Homo sapiens: one gene and its partner. The protein of the gene in region 1 interacts with the protein of each later gene in a biochemical or structural test. Each region holds a gene or a part of one and is shown on either strand. Other genes may lie near its edges. The genes, in order: TNKS2 and PPP1R12C.

The links.
Region 2: the proteins of TNKS2 (region 1) and PPP1R12C interact in a biophysical measurement, tested with the Homo sapiens proteins (one study listed by IntAct).

The regions. Positions count from the first base shown.
Region 1 is NC_000010.11:91,846,862-91,850,684, forward strand, and holds part of TNKS2 (poly [ADP-ribose] polymerase tankyrase-2), read left to right. Parts: intron 1-1,521; coding exon 1,522-1,774; intron 1,775-2,650; coding exon 2,651-2,733; intron 2,734-3,823. UniProt on the Homo sapiens protein: Poly-ADP-ribosyltransferase involved in various processes such as Wnt signaling pathway, telomere length and vesicle trafficking.
Region 2 is NC_000019.10:55,107,444-55,111,266, forward strand, and holds part of PPP1R12C (protein phosphatase 1 regulatory subunit 12C), read right to left. Parts: intron 1-3,823. UniProt on the Homo sapiens protein: Regulates myosin phosphatase activity.

The DNA of each region.
Region 1 (3,823 bases):
CCAGATACAATTAAGTTACAATGAAGCAAAATGCTGTAGAGAACATACAGGGGCTTTAGAGTCAGACAGACTGGGCCTAGAATTCCAGCTGCACGATTTAAGTTGTACAATCTTATGAACTGCCTAACCTCTAAACCTTAGTTACCTCATCTATAGATAGAGGTAAAATATATCTGGTTAGTATGAGAATTAAATGGGGTAATTTACTTAAAGTCTTTGGCATGGTATCAGGTACATAAAAAGCACTCAATAAATGGTACTATTATTATAAACAAATGTCATTTACAAATTGTGAGTGCAATGGGAATGCATAGACTGGGGGAAGAGAAAGGTGATGACTGGAATAGTCAGAACAAATGACTATGAAACAAGTACTAATTTATTCCTTGCTGAACATTAGTTGAACGTTGTGAAAGAAGAGTACATATTACAAATTAAACAAATTAATGTACCAATAAATGTGAGGACTTTTTTCCATTCTAGCAGATTTTTTTTAATTTTTATTTATTATTATTTTTTTGAGATGGAAGTCTCACTCTGTCACCCAGACTGTAGTGCAGTGGCACAATCTGGGCTCACTGCAACCTCCGCCTCCCAGGTTCAAATGATTCTGCTGCCTCAGCCTCCCGAGTAGCTGGAATTACAGGCATGCGCCACCACACCCAGCTAATAATTTTTGTATTTTCAGTAGAAATGGGGTTTCACCATGTTGGCCAGGCTGACCTCAAGTGATCGACCCACCTCGGCCTCCCAAAGTGCTGGGATTACAGGCATAAGCCACTGCACCTGGCCCCATTCTAGCAGATTTGATTAAAATGATTATCTTTTCTACCCACCTCCTCTCCAAAAAACTTTCAGTTTTAAGGAACAAATACATTGCTGAATATTTTCCAGGAAATACAAACAATTCAGTTTGCTAAAGTTCTGTGTAGGTTGAATTACTTCTTTCAGAGTAACTACAATAGGACTAAAATCTCTTACCTTTTAAAATTGATATTTCTGTAATTCGTTGTGCTTCTCAGTCACAGTATCAGAATTAGGGTTTTGTTCATGCTTTGCCATATTTAAATTATATTTTGACAATATGTGTTTTGGAAGAGATGTTCTCAGTTATGTCTTATATTTTAATAACAGTTTAGCTGGATACAGGTTGAATATCCCTTATCGGAAATGCTTAGAACCAGATGTGTTTTCGGCTTTTGGATATTTTTTTCAGATTTTGAAATATTATACTCAAGCATTATACTTACTGTTGAGCATCCCCGATCCCCAAATCTGAAATCCAAAATGCTCCAATAAACATTTCCTTTGAGCTTCACGTCAACATTTTAAAATTTTCAGATTTGGGATGTTTGACCTGTATTAACCTGTTTGCTTCACTTTTTAAAATGAATAATCCTCCATTGTGATAGTACTGGCACAAATTGCTGGGTTTTCTCATATTTTTAAATATATTTTATTAGGTATAATAGCATTTTAAAACTTGCTTATGGCAGATGTTGTCTCTGACACGTACCCTAGGCGGATGATGTCAGCGCTCTTCTGACAGCAGCCATGCCCCCATCTGCTCTGCCCTCTTGTTACAAGCCTCAAGTGCTCAATGGTGTGAGAAGCCCAGGAGCCACTGCAGATGCTCTCTCTTCAGGTCCATCTAGCCCATCAAGCCTTTCTGCAGCCAGCAGTCTTGACAACTTATCTGGGAGTTTTTCAGAACTGTCTTCAGTAGTTAGTTCAAGTGGAACAGAGGGTGCTTCCAGTTTGGAGAAAAAGGAGGGTGAGACGTTCTACAAAAATAACTTTCTAACTGGTATTGTAGCCCCGTATTTGTCATTTGGGATGCTAAAAAGTCATTTTTAACCTTAAATACAAGGTATTAGTATAAAATTAGTTAACATAGCCTTAAAAAGGTTTAACCTTGTATTACTTTCTTCCTTCCAAGTTGACAGTTGAAGAGTCTTGTGCTACTAACCTACTATTTATTTATTTATTTTTGAGATGGAGTTCTGCTTTTGTCGCCCAGACTGGAGTGCAGTGGCGCGATCTCGGCTCACTGCAACCTCTGCCTCAAGGGTTTAAGCAATGCTCCTGCCTCAGCCTCCCGAGTAGCTGAAATTGCAGGCACCCACCACCATGCCCGGCTAATTTTTGTAGTTTTAGTAGAGATGGGATTTCACCATTTTGGCCAGACTGGTCTTGAACTCCTGACCTCAGGTGATCCACCCGCCTCGGCCTCCCAAAGTGCTGGGATTATAGGCGTGAGCCACCGCCCCCCGCCCTTAATCTGCTCTTTAGATGTAAACCTTTTCTGTTAAAATTCATCCCACCTTATGCAACAGTGTGGAGCTTGTTTTCATAAACTTTTTTGTGAAGTAGCTTACATCCTGAAAGATAGGAAAACTGGTTTTAAAAATATAGATGCAATTAAAAACAAAGTTTAAAATAAAAATGAGAGTACTGAGACTGCCCCATTGATTAGCTTTTTTCTAATGTTGAAATTTTGTAGCTTTCTCTTGTTCAGTATTATATCCTAAGTGGCTATTAATATTATTTTCTTCATATATAGTAACATTACAAGACTTTACTGTTATAGTGATGAAATACATTATTCTGATGTGAAATTCCATTTGTTTTGGATTTTTTTATTTCCCAGTTCCAGGAGTAGATTTTAGCATAACTCAATTCGTAAGGAATCTTGGACTTGAGCACCTAATGGATATATTTGAGAGAGAACAGGTGAGTAGATAAATCATATTGTTTGGATTAGTGTTTTATGGAAACTCAAGGAAAATTTGGAACATACTTGAAATGAGCTGAACCATGTAAGCTATTGGGGGAGAATGTTTTTTAAGAAATGACATCAGTCAGCCTTCTAATTTGGCTTGACCTTGAAACTTCCATTTAGTTTATTCGCACACAGTTGACTCGAGTAGTAATGGTAAAGTAGCTTTCTTGAATGGAAAGTTTAGCTTATTCAGTTCTTGAAGTAAGTTATCCTTGAGCACTGTCTATTCAGTTCTCTCTCAAGCCTGACACTTTTCTAGCTGCTATGGGAAGGTATATGAATATGCCAGCCATATCTGGGCTTTTCTAAGCAGTCTCAGTTTAAAGTACTCTGTCAGAATACATTTACTGATTTTTGTTGTTGTTCAGAAAATAATGTTACTGTAGATTTGCACTCTAAGGGACTTTCATTGTAGTTATGGAATTAGAATAAGAACATATGGCCGGGTGCAGTGGCTCACGCCTGTAATCCCAGCACTTTGGGAGGCCGAGGTGGGTGGATCACTTGAGGTCAGGAGTTCAAGACCAGCCTGGCCAAGATGGTGAAACCCCCGTCTCTACTAAAAATACAAAGAAATTAGCCAGGCATGGTGGCAGGCACCTATAATCCCACCTACTCGGGAGGCTGAGGCAAAGAATTGCTTGAACCCGGGAAGCAGAGGTTGCAGTGAGCCAAGATCACACCACTGCACTCCAGCCTCGGCAACAGAGCAAGACTCGGTCTCAAAAAAAAAAAAAAAAAGAACATATGAAAATTCAAGTTTTAGCATAGATTTTAGAAATTTGTAGAAGGGAGCCAGGCACGGTGGCTCATGCCTGTAATCCCAGCACTTTGGGAGGCTGAGGCGGGTGGATCACCTGAGGTCAGGAGTTCAAGACCAGCCTGGCCAATATAGTGAAACTCTTCCCTACTAAAAATACAAAAAATTAGCTGGGCGTGGTGGCGGGCACCTGTAATCCCAGCTACTCAGGAGGCTGAGGCAGGAGAATCGCTTGAACCCGGGAGGCAGAGGTTGCAGTGAGCTGAGATTGCACTTTTGCA
Region 2 (3,823 bases), on another chromosome or scaffold:
AACCAACCCAAATGTCCATCAATGATAGACTGGATTAAGAAAGTGTGGCACATATACACCATGGAATACTATGCAGCCATAAAAAAGGATGAATTCATGTCCTTTGTAGGGACATGGATGAAGCTGGAAACCATCACTCAGCAAACTATCGCAAGGACAGAAAACCAAACACTGCATGTTGTCACTCATAGGTGGGAAATGAACAATGAGAACACTTGGACACAGGAAGGGGAACATCACACACTGGGGCCTGTCGTGGGGTGGGGGGAGGGACAGCATTAGGAGATATACCTAATGTAAATGACGAGTTAATGGGTGCAGCACACCAACATGGCACATGTATACATATGTAACAAACCTGCATGTTGTACACATGTACCATAGAACTTAAAGTATAAATTAAAAAAATAAAAAATAAAAATAAAAATAAAGAAACTCCATCTCAGAGTGAAAAAAATGTGGTAAAATACACACAGTATAAAATTTACCATCTTTTTTTTTTTTTTTTGAGATGCTGAGTCTTGCTCTGTTGCCCAGGCTGGAGTGCAGTGGTGAGATCTCGGCTCACTGCAACCTCCATCTCCTGGGTTCAAGCAATTCTCCTGCCTCAGCCTCCCGAGTAGCTGGGACTATAGGTGTACATCGCTATGCCCGGCTAACTTTTATATTTTCAGCAGAGACGGGGTTTCACCATGTTGGCCAGGCTGGTCTCAAACTCCTGACCTCAGGTGATCTGCCCACCTCGGCCTCCCAAAGTGCTGGATTACAGGCCTGAGCCACCGCGCCCAGCCTAAAATTTACCATTTTAACCCCAATTCAGTGGCATTAAGTAGTCACAATTGGTTGTTGTGCAACCAATCTCCAGAATTTTTTCATCTTGCAAAATTAAAATCGTGTACCCTAGGTCAGGGACAATGGCTCACACCTGCAATCCCAGCACTTTAGGAGGCCAAGGTGGGTGGATCACTTGAGCTCAAGAGTTCCAGACTAGCTTGGGCAACGTGGTGAAACCCCGTCTCCACAAAAAATATAAAAATCATTTTAAAAAATGTGTACCCACTAAACTACTTCCTATTCTCCCCACTCCTCCCAGTCCCTGACTACAGCCATTCTACTGTCTGTCTCCATTATTTTGACTATTCTGGGTACCTCACAGACGTGGAATCAGACAGTAATTGTCCTTCTGTGACTGGCTTATTTTCACTTTTCACTTAGCATAATGTCCTCAAGATACATCTACATTGTGTGTTTTTTGTTTTGTCTTGTTTTGTTTTTTGTTTTGAGACACAGTTTCCTCTTGTTGCTCAGGCTAGAGTGCAGTGGCACGATCTTGGCTCACCACAACCTCCACCTCCCAGGTTCGAGTGATTCTCCCGCCTCAGCCTCCTGAGCAGCTGAGGTTACAGGGATGTGCCACCACCCCTGGCTAATTTTGTATTTTTAGTAGAGACAGAGTTTCTCCATGTTGGTCAGGTTGGCCTCAAACTCCCGACCTCAGGTGATCCGCCCGCCTCGGCCTCCCTAAGTGCTGGGATGAAGACTGAATCATGTCCCACCGCATGGATGGGCCACATGTTGATTTTCCATTCATTCGATGATGGGCACTAGGTTGCTCCTACCTCTGGGCTATTGTGAACGATGCTATGAACACGGGTATATAAATTGCCTTTTTTGTTTTGGTTTATTTGGTTGAGACAGGGTCTTGCCCCCAGGCTGGAGTGACCGTGGTTCACTGCATCTTCCACCTCCCAGGCTCAAGCAATCTTCTCACCTCAGCCTACTGAGTAGCTGGGAGCGTACGTGCATTCCCACGCCTGGCTAATGTGTTTTGTTTTATAGAGATGGGTTCTCACTAGGTTTCCCAGGCTGGTCTCAAACTCCTGGGCTCAAGAGATCCTCCCATCTTGGCCTCCCAAAGTGCTGGGCTTACAGGTCTGAGCCACTGTGCCAGGCCTCAAATGGCCTTTTCCGGCCTGAGCCAGGAGGAACGGGTTTTGGTTCTTGCAAAGAGTCATGCCCGATTCAGCCCCTGAGTCGACTGGGCCAGAGGACTTTGCGGTGTTGGAGGGAGCGGTGGCTCCAGGCCACGAGGTGACTGGCTGAGCAGATCACGTGCTCTCACTGAACCCCAGACCCAGAGAGAGGAAAACAGCAAGTAAGCCAGGGAAAGCGAAGGGGATGGTCGTGCCTGAGGCCGGTCTGTCTTCTCTCCCAGCCCTGCCTGTGAGTGGCTGCCAGGGCCACACTATGGCCAGAGCCAGTCTGGATGCCAGCACCTCGGGGAATTCTGCATCATGTGGGCGTGTCCTGCAGGGGGTGCAAAAGACCCGCCCTCCTTAGAGCTGGGGTGCAGCCTGTGATCCAGGTCCTGCGCACTGCAGCCCCTCTGAGGCTCCTGTGTGGAGCCGGGTGTCACAGGGTGTCACAGGCAGTCGCCTTGTGATTTGGGGCCGCAGAGTCCCACCCCGAGCAGCACGGCTGAGGGTCTTTCCAGTGGCCCCAGTGGTCTTCGTTCCTGGCTGATCCTACAAGCCAATATCCCCCACCAATGTATCCCTCCCAGCCTTCTCCTCACCCCACGGGAGGGAAGAAGCATGGCCCCCTCTGAGAAGCTGATGCAAGTTATGAGCAATTTCTGCAGGAAAATACAACGTCAGAAAGTTCACAGACCCCCTGGAGGCCATTCCCGGCCTCCCTGGGGTCCAAGGGAAAAGGAGGACTGATCCAGACAGAGGGAGCCTAAATCACCCAGATCTGGATCCCTAGCTGGGCCCTGAACCAGAGCGGGAGAGGCTACAAAGAATGTCAAGGAGAAACGCAGGCAACAGTGTAGCATCAAGGTTGGTGCAGTGGGTGAGAGTGTAGCATCAAGGTTGGTGCGGTGGGTGAGAGTGTAGCATCAAGGTTGGTGCGGTGGGTGAGAGTGTAGCATCAAGGTTGGTGCGGTGGGTGAGAGTGTAGCATCAAGGTTGGTGCGGTGGGTGAGAGTGTAGCATCAAGGTTGGTGCGGTGGGTGAGAGTGTAGCATCAAGGTCAACACAGGGGGTAGCGTGTTGCATCCCTACTGTGGTTCTGCAGGAGGTTTTCCTTGTGGCAGGAGATACCTGCTGTGCATCAGGCGAAGATGTACAATGCCTGCAACACAGTCTCAGAATGGCCGGGCTCACGCCTGTAATCCCAACACTTTGCGAGGCCGAGGCCAGCAGATCGCCTGAGGTCAGGAGTTGGAGACCAGCCTGGTCAACATGGTGAAACCCCATCTCTATTAAAAATGCAAAATTAGCTGGGCATGCTGGCTCACGCCTGTAATCTCAGCTACCCAGAAGCTGAGGCAGGAGAATCGCTTGAACCCAGGAGGTGGAGGTTGCAGTGAGCCGAAATCATGCCATTGCACTCCAGCCTGGGCAAAAAGTGAAACTCTGTTTCAAAAAAAAAAAAAAGGCTCAGGAATGGAAAGGCAGGGGTGGGGTGGTAAGAAAGGAAGGGAGAGATGGAGGGAAAAAAACAGGAGGAGAAAGGATAGGAAAAAATGTGTTTATGTCTATACCTGGGAAGAGATCGCAAGGGAGGGACAGAGAGAAGGAACACAAATCTATCAAAAAGTTAAAAGCTGATGATTCTATACTGTATGATTCCCTTTATGTGAAGTGTACAAAACAGCAAATCCACAGACAGAAGGCAGAGAGGGCTTCGTGGGGTGGGGGGGAGGGGGGGGTGCATGGTTGGGGGTGATGGCTAAGCGGTTGCAGGGTTTCGTTGGGGGATGATGAAAATGTTCTACAACCAATGTGGTCATAAATGCCCGACCCCGTGAATAGACTAA